Regions from separate parts of the Homo sapiens genome. Here region 1 is linked to region 2. Evidence: fine-mapped expression QTL. Tissue or cell type: monocytes. Region 2 holds a variant in brackets; the other region holds the start of a gene. All regions are shown on one strand. Distances are from middle to middle.

Evidence for each region. PIP is the estimated chance that this variant, and not a neighbour inherited with it, causes the effect. A credible set is the group of variants that fine-mapping cannot tell apart.
Region 1: ACMSD starts here. The variant in region 2 is the best candidate, but not a certain one, in a credible set for the expression of ACMSD in monocytes (Quach 2016, PIP 0.88).

Annotation. Positions count from the first base shown.
Region 1 is chr2:134,836,043-134,840,441 of GRCh38, reverse strand. ACMSD (aminocarboxymuconate semialdehyde decarboxylase) reads right to left here and starts at 1,826. Exons shown (of 10, transcript NM_138326.3): 1 at 1,703-1,826. The coding sequence starts at 1,759.
Region 2 is chr2:134,995,668-135,000,066 of GRCh38, reverse strand. It overlaps MAP3K19 (mitogen-activated protein kinase kinase kinase 19), which reads left to right. Exons shown (of 13, transcript NM_025052.5): 7 at 52-130; 8 at 1,070-1,329. Among named protein-coding and RNA genes, the nearest start is that of MAP3K19, 50 kb to the left of the region's middle. The variant G/A (reference allele first, on the strand shown) is at 2,451.

The sequences.
Region 1 (4,399 bases), 160 kb after region 2:
TTGGGGGGGACATACACATTCAGACTGTAGCTCTCTCTAAGCCTCAAAATCCTGTCTGCACAAGGAGGTGTATGCCCTGGAGCTTGGAGCCCTGCTTGGAGGGTCGATCATGCTAGCTAGCTTTCTCAGTGGGATAGTACAGGGGGGCGTTGTCCTCTAGAGACCACCGTGGTGGTTTCCAAAGCATTTCATGTGGATATTCTTTCATACTCAAATAGAGAAAAAAGCTGTAACAGAGGAATTAGTGGTTTTTTTTTTTTTTTTTTTTTTTTTTGCTAGGTATAGTTTATGGCTATTTTAAAATACCAAATACTAAAATTTGGATTTTTCTAAAACTCTCAGATTAGGGAGTATAATCTATTGCTTCCATTACCTGTATCACAAGTTAGTCAATGTGTTCATTGCATCATTCATCAGGCAAATACTCATAAATGAGGGGTAGAAAGTGGTGGGCGCCATAAGATGTAAGAAACTGCATGCAGCTTCTAAACAAGGCAGATGCACTCCCACAAAGTAACTGGTGCATTCCCTTCATGAAATCATTAACATTGTGAAGTGGTTTACACTTCAGTAAACTATGATGAGGACAACAGCACTCAGAACAGCATGTTCCTGTGTAAACATGTAGAGTCCTTTTAGGAAGAGCAGGTTGAGAGGTTTATCTTTTATCGTTAGCTGTGCATAGGATAGGCTTTCAAAGATTTTGTTTTTCAATCCACAGTTTCTACCACCCCTCTTACCTAAGATACCAATGGACAAAGAAATACTTAAGATAAACATTCTTCAATGAGACAACTATGAGAAGAAAATAGTTTCATCTATTTGCACAATGAACCACATTTAATTCAAGTTTGGGTTAATTCATTTTCCCTCACTTGGGATAAAAAAGTTGAAACATTATCGGTGGTGTGAAAGTACTGGCAGAATGCTGAAGATTGGGTAAAACCTGATATTAAGCCTGAACAAACCTCTAGCCAATTTTACATTTCTTTCATGTTCCTCACCTTCCTCTTTTTATATTCATTCAAAAGTTCTTAATGACAAAAGGAAATTTCCATCTTTAGAGAAACACAAAGAATACTCTCTTAGGAGATGTCACTGTGCAAAAGCTTCATGTCATTTATTCTCGGGTTTTTTGATGTACCTACTTCCTAGTTCTTCAGGACAAAGATTTATAGAATAAAGAACATCAAACAGTAAAGGTTTCAGGCAGTGTCCTAAAATAGACTAAAAAAATTCACAAAGCTATCTCTTGGTGCTTCTAAAACTTATTTTAAACATTTTGGAAAGGAGATATATTTTAGAAGTCCTTGAAACCGATCACATTCCATTTTTAATGGTCTTCTACTTAAAATTGTAACTTTAAATTCTGTAGTTGGCATGTATCTTCCCAGCAGCTGAATATGTGATTTTTGAAAAGGTAAATCTGCCTTATTTAAATTGTCCAGATATTTTAAAGAATGGTTCATTTGAGGGAAAAAAGGGTTTCTGAGAAAGCACTTATTTCTTTAATCCAATGTTATTTCAAAATAAATATAAAAGTCATTTTTAAAAGCTAGAAAATCAGAACTACCAAATGATTTAACCCCCTCGCCCCCCACCAAAGCAGATAAACTAGACATCTAATTCCACAAAGAAGAGAAAGGCATTGAGAAACCCTGGAGAAGTTTCAGAAATAATTCAGCAAATTAATTACCATTACCTTTTTTAGATCTGGCCATTCTTTTGGTAGAATATGACTATGGATGTCAATTTTCATCTCCACAGGATCAGAGAAGCATGCAAGGAAAGAAGTTTTGATATCAAGAGACCTTTGTGAAAACTGTGGAGTTAATTGATTTACTTAGTCCCTTTACAGCAACCTTCAGGCAGCAGTCAGTAGGCCTGCCCAACCCAGTCTAGGTCCATTAGAACTGCTTTATTAAAGTTCAAAGTTCTGTTTATTTGTTAACCAAGCTTTGGTTAACCAAGCTTTATTTGTTAATCAAGCTTTGGGTCAACACAGTTTGGTAGTCAGGACTCTTGGCACAAAACTTAAAAAAACAAAAACAAAAACAAAAACAAAAAAACAACTGTACTCAACTGTATGAGGTCAAAAGCACAGCAGGATGCTTTGACTTACAGCAGGTCAAAAATTGACTGATTTTTCATTTTAAATATTTTAACTTAGTTGTACATAGTTAATAATTAAATAGTTTGTAGTTAAAAATAAAACCATGCAGAGGGCTTTTACAGAAAAAGGATAGATCCCTGACTCACCTTTTCTTACTTTTCCTTGCACTATTCAGAAGCAGCCAGTTTTTATGATTTTGCTTTTTGTTCAGTTAGTTACTCCCATATCTTTAAATAATATTTAACAGTTGTCTTGTTCATGAAAATTTAACGTGTTGAAAAGTTATGGGGAGGTTTCACATTTTAAATCACAGAAAGAGTCCACTCTTCATATATGTTTTTTCCTCCAGTGCCTTTGTCTTGGACTCATTCATTCATGCATTTTTTTCCTTTTTTTTTTGTTTTTTAATTTGAGATGCGGTCTCACTATATTGCCCAGGCTGGTATGGAATTCCTGGGCTCAAGCAATCCACCCACCTTTGCCTCCCAAAGTGCTGGGATTACAGGCGAGAGCCACTGCACCCAGCTTCATTCATGCATTTAACAAACATTTATGGAGAACTGCTATATGCTGACGATGTAAGGTTGACTGAGAGAAAGATGATACATATCCTAAAGTGTAGGGAAAAGAAGATAGTAGCCATTTCCATTTAGCATTATCAGAGCAGTCAGGGAGGGCTTCCAATATAGCAGAAAGTGGGGCTTATATGGTCATGCCTCTAAAGAGAGCCTGGAACAAAACAGCCCTTGATTGTTCTGTGTTTACCCTTTCCTCTTCCTGAACAGCTTAAAATGTTCAAGGGACCCCAGGTCCCCTGGCAAACCCTTAAACCTGCCTTGGTTGCTGCCTTCAGCTCAGACTCCACAACACATAAATTGAGTAGTCAAAAAGCTTCCTTCTGTAATTCAGCTAGATTCTGGATAAATTATAACAGACAGCTTGAAAGAAAATAAAGGAAATCCTTGAAATCCATTTTTTTAGAAGTTCAGTGAGCTAAAACTGAATGAGTAAGCCTTAAACTAACATGGAGGCACTTGCTAATACTGAGTAAGTAAGTGCAAGCATTTTTAGAGCACTCCCAATGGGCCAGGCACTGGTCCATGAATTTTAATAAAGTCGGTTCACTTATTACTCATAACATTCCTGTGGGGGAAGAACTAGGACCAATATTCATTTTATAGAAGAGGAAACTGAAGCACGGAGAAGTACCTTGTTCATGGTTACACAATAGTGTGTGGGAGAACTGGAATTAGAATCCAGAAAATGTGGCTTCAGACTCCTAGAGATTTCAGGGTTAATATCCCACAAGGGAATGGGAGATAATAATATGGGCTTGTACAAAACTGAAATGCCCTCATTACACTAAAAGTCTTGAAGGATCTAGACCCTCAGGGAAAAAGTAGTCTAGGAAAAAAATCCATTGGCCAAAAAGAGGGAGTCTGTAATGAAACCTGTCTTCACTATGAGGGGAAAAAAAGAGAAGAAATAACAATTTTCTCTGAGAATTTCTTTGAGAATTACTATTCAAGGTCACCCACTAAGATTTTAGTTAAAGTACCACTCACCTACTTCCTCCCACCCTGTCTTAGTCAATTTAGTGTTGCTTTAATAGAATACCTGAGTCTGGATAATTTATAAAGAAAAGAAACTCATTTGGCTCACAGTTCTGCTGGCTGGAAAGTCCAAGAACATTGCACCAGGAGCTGTTTGGCTTCTGGTGAGGGCCACATGCTGAGGTACAACATGGTAGAAAAGCAGAAAGGTATGCAGATGTGTGCAAAGAGGGACAGGACAAAGGAGGCTAATGAGTTTTATAACAACCCACTCTTGGAAGAACTAATCTATTTCTATGAGAATTAATCCAACCTCAAGAACTAAACCAGGCTTGTGAAAAACCCATCTTAACAGCCTAATCACCTCTTAAAAACACCACCTCCCAATGCTGCTACATTGGCAATTATATGTTAACATGTTTTGGTAGGGAGAAATTACATCCAAACCCTAGTACTACTTTTGACCAGAAAAAGGAAATGTAAATCCTCCCTGAAGAAAAACATCCCAATTCTGTCTCCTCAGTATTGCCACAGATTAAGCACCCCCAACAAAGTATTGTCTCACAATAAAAAAATTCTACACACATGAGGAAAAAAGTCACTATGAGCAGGAGTCCACAGATATAATAAATAATAGATTTAAACCTCCAAGAATGTTTACCAAGTTTGAAAATGAGCAAAATGAGACTTTAAAAATGAAATCAAAATAATTTTAATTTAAAAACTCAGTGGA
Region 2 (4,399 bases):
CGCTGGAATTCATTACTTTCTTCCTTCTACTACTGTGGTATGTTTCTACAGGTGTTGAGATCACTGTAACTTTTCCAAGAGATGTCAGTCCTCCCCAAGAAATGAGCCAAGAAGACTTAAAAGAAAAGAAGTAAGGAATATTCTTTGAAGTATCAGATTTGAAATGAAGTATGAAGCAATGATAGTCATATGGCAACCTACATTATTAGTAATTGAATCCATAATAATGCTTAAAAGTAGAGGTCACAATAAATAGTATGTGGCAGAGGCCAGATCATAAACACTTTGGCTGTGTGGGCCATATGGTCTCTGTTGTGATGATTCAACTCTGCAACTGTCATTTGAATGCAGCCATAGACAATATGTAAACAAATGAGTGTGGCTGTGATCCAATTAAAGCTACAGAAAAAGGCTGAAGGCTGGATTTGGTCCCCGGGCTGTAGTTTGCTGACCCTACTGCAGGGCAGAGCTACTTAGAATGTGGTTCTGTGGTCCTGTTACTAGTCCATGATGAGGTCAGGACAGGCTGCGAGGGTGACCATTAAAAAAGTTGCAAAGCAATTTGGCAAATAACTTACGTTCATTGATCGGGTAGTGAAACAAATTGAGGCTTATTTTTTGCATGTCTTTTATTTTTCTTCCATTTTTATGGCAATTCATTTATATTTTACAAAAGTATCAGTTCACAATGACTGGAAATTTAAATGCTGGTTCTTCATCAAAAATAGTTTGAGAAACACTGGGCTAGTCAGTACCTGTGGAGATAAAAGGGTACATCCCCCAGGCCTGCCCTTGGTCTCTGATTTCTCTGTGCAAGGAAATGGTGATTGGGAAAACGAGAGTGAGCTGAAACCTAATCCATCCAAGCGATGGTACAGAGGGCTAAGGAGGCCAGGAGGAGTCAGCAGGTGGAGATGTCTTACCCTCTCAGGATTCAGCCTTTCCTTTCAGCAGCACCATTTGGAAGTAGTTCTTCAAACTTTCTAGTGATGTCAGGCTGAACTGAGGACTGGAGATCCAGAAGATGTGGCAACTGAGTTTTAAATCAAACATTTCCCTCCCCCTTTAGTCTGATAAACTCATCGCTTCAAGAATGGGCACAAGCACATGCAGTTTCTCATCCAAATGAAATAGAAACGGTGGAGCTCAGGAAAAAGAAGCTGACCATGCGGCCCTTAGTTTTGCAAAAAGAGGAAAGTTCCAGGGAGCTCTGCAATGTGAACTTGGGCTTTTTGCTACCAAGATCTTGTTTAGAACTGAACATTTCCAAGTCTGTAACCAGAGAAGATGCTCCTCATTTTCTGAAGGAGCAGCAAAGAAAATCTGAAGGTAAGTTGAACATTGAATTCCACAGTGAGTCCTTTTGGTCAACAAATATTTATGTATTGTGCCAGGCACTGTTCTAAATGCTAGAGATAAAGCAGTGAACATACCAGAAAATAACCCCAGCCCTTGTGTAATTTACATTCCTGGGGGTCATGGGGGTGCGAGACAGACAATAAACTAGTAAACAAGTAAAATGAAGGATGGCATAATGTTCCAGCAGAAAGAGCACTATATGTGCAAATGTTTATATATTTGTTCAAGGAATAGAAGGCAAATATTTTGAGAATATCTTATTGTTTAGATTATTTCATTGCTTATTTCTTTAAACATTTCAGACATTATTTTGTAAACTATACTTGATAATTTCAGTATCAATATCCTACTGATTTGCACTATGGTTGACTTTTTTCTTGAGTGTTTGAAAATCTTCATTGTGAGCTCATATTTGGTTGATGTTTATCTGTGGGAATCTTGGGGGCCCACGCTGTGGATGCTTTTGGCCAGAAGTATTGAATTTACTTCTACCAGGTCCCAGGGTCATTATGGACTTGAGTCTACGTTAGCCTTATTCCTGGATCCCCAAGTTAATGTGCAAGTCTAAGAGCCAACTTCCAACTACATTGAGCCCAAGACTCATTTGCTAGATAGCAGCACTGATGCCAGCATTTCCCCCTGCGGCAATATTGTCTTTGCTACTTGTTTACCACTGTCCTCAACCAACCAGCCAAAACCACCAGGAACAACCTTATAATCCAACAAGTTACATTCATTGATTTATCACAATGAGGGAGACTGCATGCCAGTGGAGCTGTGACACATCCTACCAAAAAAGAAAAAAAAGAATAATTATTATGGGATTTTAAGAGAAGGGTACATTTTAAGTGAAATTTAAATGAAGCAGTGCTTAAAGTTTTTTTTTTTTTGAGACGGAGTCTCGCTCTGTCACCAGGCTGGAGCACAGTGGCCCAATCTCAGCTCACCGCAACCTCTGCCTCCTGGGTTCAAGCAATTCTCATGCCTCAGCCTCCCAAGTAGCTGGGACTACAGGCGCATGCCACCACGCCCAGCTAATTTTTGTATTTTTAGTAGAGATGGGGTTTCACCATGTTGGCCAGGATGGTGTC[G/A]ATCTCTTGACCTCGTGATCCTCCCACCTTGGCCTCCCACAGTGCTGGGATTACAGGTGTGAGCCACTGCGCCTGGCCTAAATTTTTTTTTGTTTTATTATGCTAAAATGTGTGTAACATAAAATTGACCATTTTAATCATTTTCAAGTGTACAGTTCAGTGGCATTTAAGTACATTCACATTGTTGTGTAACCATCACAACTATTCATCCCCAGAACATTTTCTTCTTGCAAAACTGAAACTCTGTGCCCCTTAAACAATAACTCTATATTTCCCACTCTCCCAAAGCCTCTGGTGACCACTATTCTATTTTCTGTCTCAATACGAATTTGACTATTCTAGGTCTTTTATAGAAATGGAATCATGCAATATTTGTCCTGTGTCTGGCTTGTTTCATTTGGCATAATGGTGAAGCAGTGTTTTGATGGGCTATATGTAAAATAGTTCATAAGAAATCTGGACTTGAAGTGGACCTAGACTCTTGTTCCTTGAAATTTACAAAGTTAGTTCCCAAATCTTGATAGCGTTTTTTTGTTTTTTGTTTGTTTGTTTGTTTGTTGGTTTGTTTGAGACACATTCCGGCTGTGTTGCCCAGGCTGGAGTGCAGTGGCGTGATCTTGGCTCACTGCAACCTCTGCCTCCTGGGCTCAAGCGATCCTCCCACCTCAGCCTCTTGGGTAGCTGGGACTACAGGTGCATGCCACCACGCCTGGCTAGTTTTGTTTGTTTGTTTGTTTGTTTTTTGGTACAGATGGGGTTTCACCATGTTGCCCAGGCTGTTACTGAACTCTTGGGCTAAAGTGATCCTCCCATCTTGGCCTCCCAAAGTGCTGGAATTACAGGCATGAGCCACCGTGTTCAGCTTCAACAGCCTCTTTCAGCCTCATATCTTGCCACTCTTCCTTCGCAGCATGATAAACTTTAGCACACTAAATGCCCTCTATTCCCTAAACATGCATGTGAATATTTGCACCTACTGTTCTTTCTGCTGGAGCATTATGCCATCCTTCAGGTTTTGTCTTAGAAACCCCTTCCTCTGGGAAGTCTTCCTGAACTTCCCAAGACTGGATGAGTTGCCCTTTCTTTGTTCCGCTATAGGATCCTGACCTTACCTACAACATAGCACTAATCAAGCATAATTGTCACTATTTGTTTACGTGTTCATCTTCGCCGGATTACAAAAGCAAGAATAATTCAACCTCCAAGCATTTGGCATCATACCTGGCACATAGCCATTACAAATGCACTTTTAATTAATAATAACAATAATCAGGTCCAGGGCAGCACTTTGGGAGGCCAAGATGGGCGGATCACTTGAAGTCTCAAAAAAAAAAAAAAAAAAAAAGAAATAAGAAGTACTAGCTGTGCACAGGCACACGCCTGTAACCCCAGCACTTTGGGAGGCTGAGGCAGGAGCACTGCTTGAGGCCAGGAGTTTGAGACCAGCCTGGGCAACATAGGCAGACTCCACCTCTAAAAAAAGTACATATATAAAAATAAATTTTAAAAATTAGGTGGCTGTGGTGGTGCACACCTATAGGCTCAGCTACTCGGGAGGCTGAGGTGGGAGGATTGCTTGATTCCAGGAGGCCAAGGCTGCAGTGGATGATGATTAGTCCATTGCACTCCAGCCTGGGTGACAGACCTCATCTCTTAAAAAAAAAAGTACAGCTAGTACAAGACTTTCTTCTAGTGTGTACTTTCATATTGCTAAATATCATGTTTAGAATGGTATTTATTAATTGTTCAGTTTGGGCTTCATCTATTAAGATTTATTACTTTTACATTACTTGCCTCACACACAAGCAATGCCCAATTTTCCCAATCTTTGTGTCTATTTTTTTAAAATCAATATTCAATGTCTCTGTTATTATGACTAGGTAAAATATTATTTGCAGCTGAGCTCCATAGTGTGTTGATTACATTTCCTCTCCTTTTAGACATTGTAT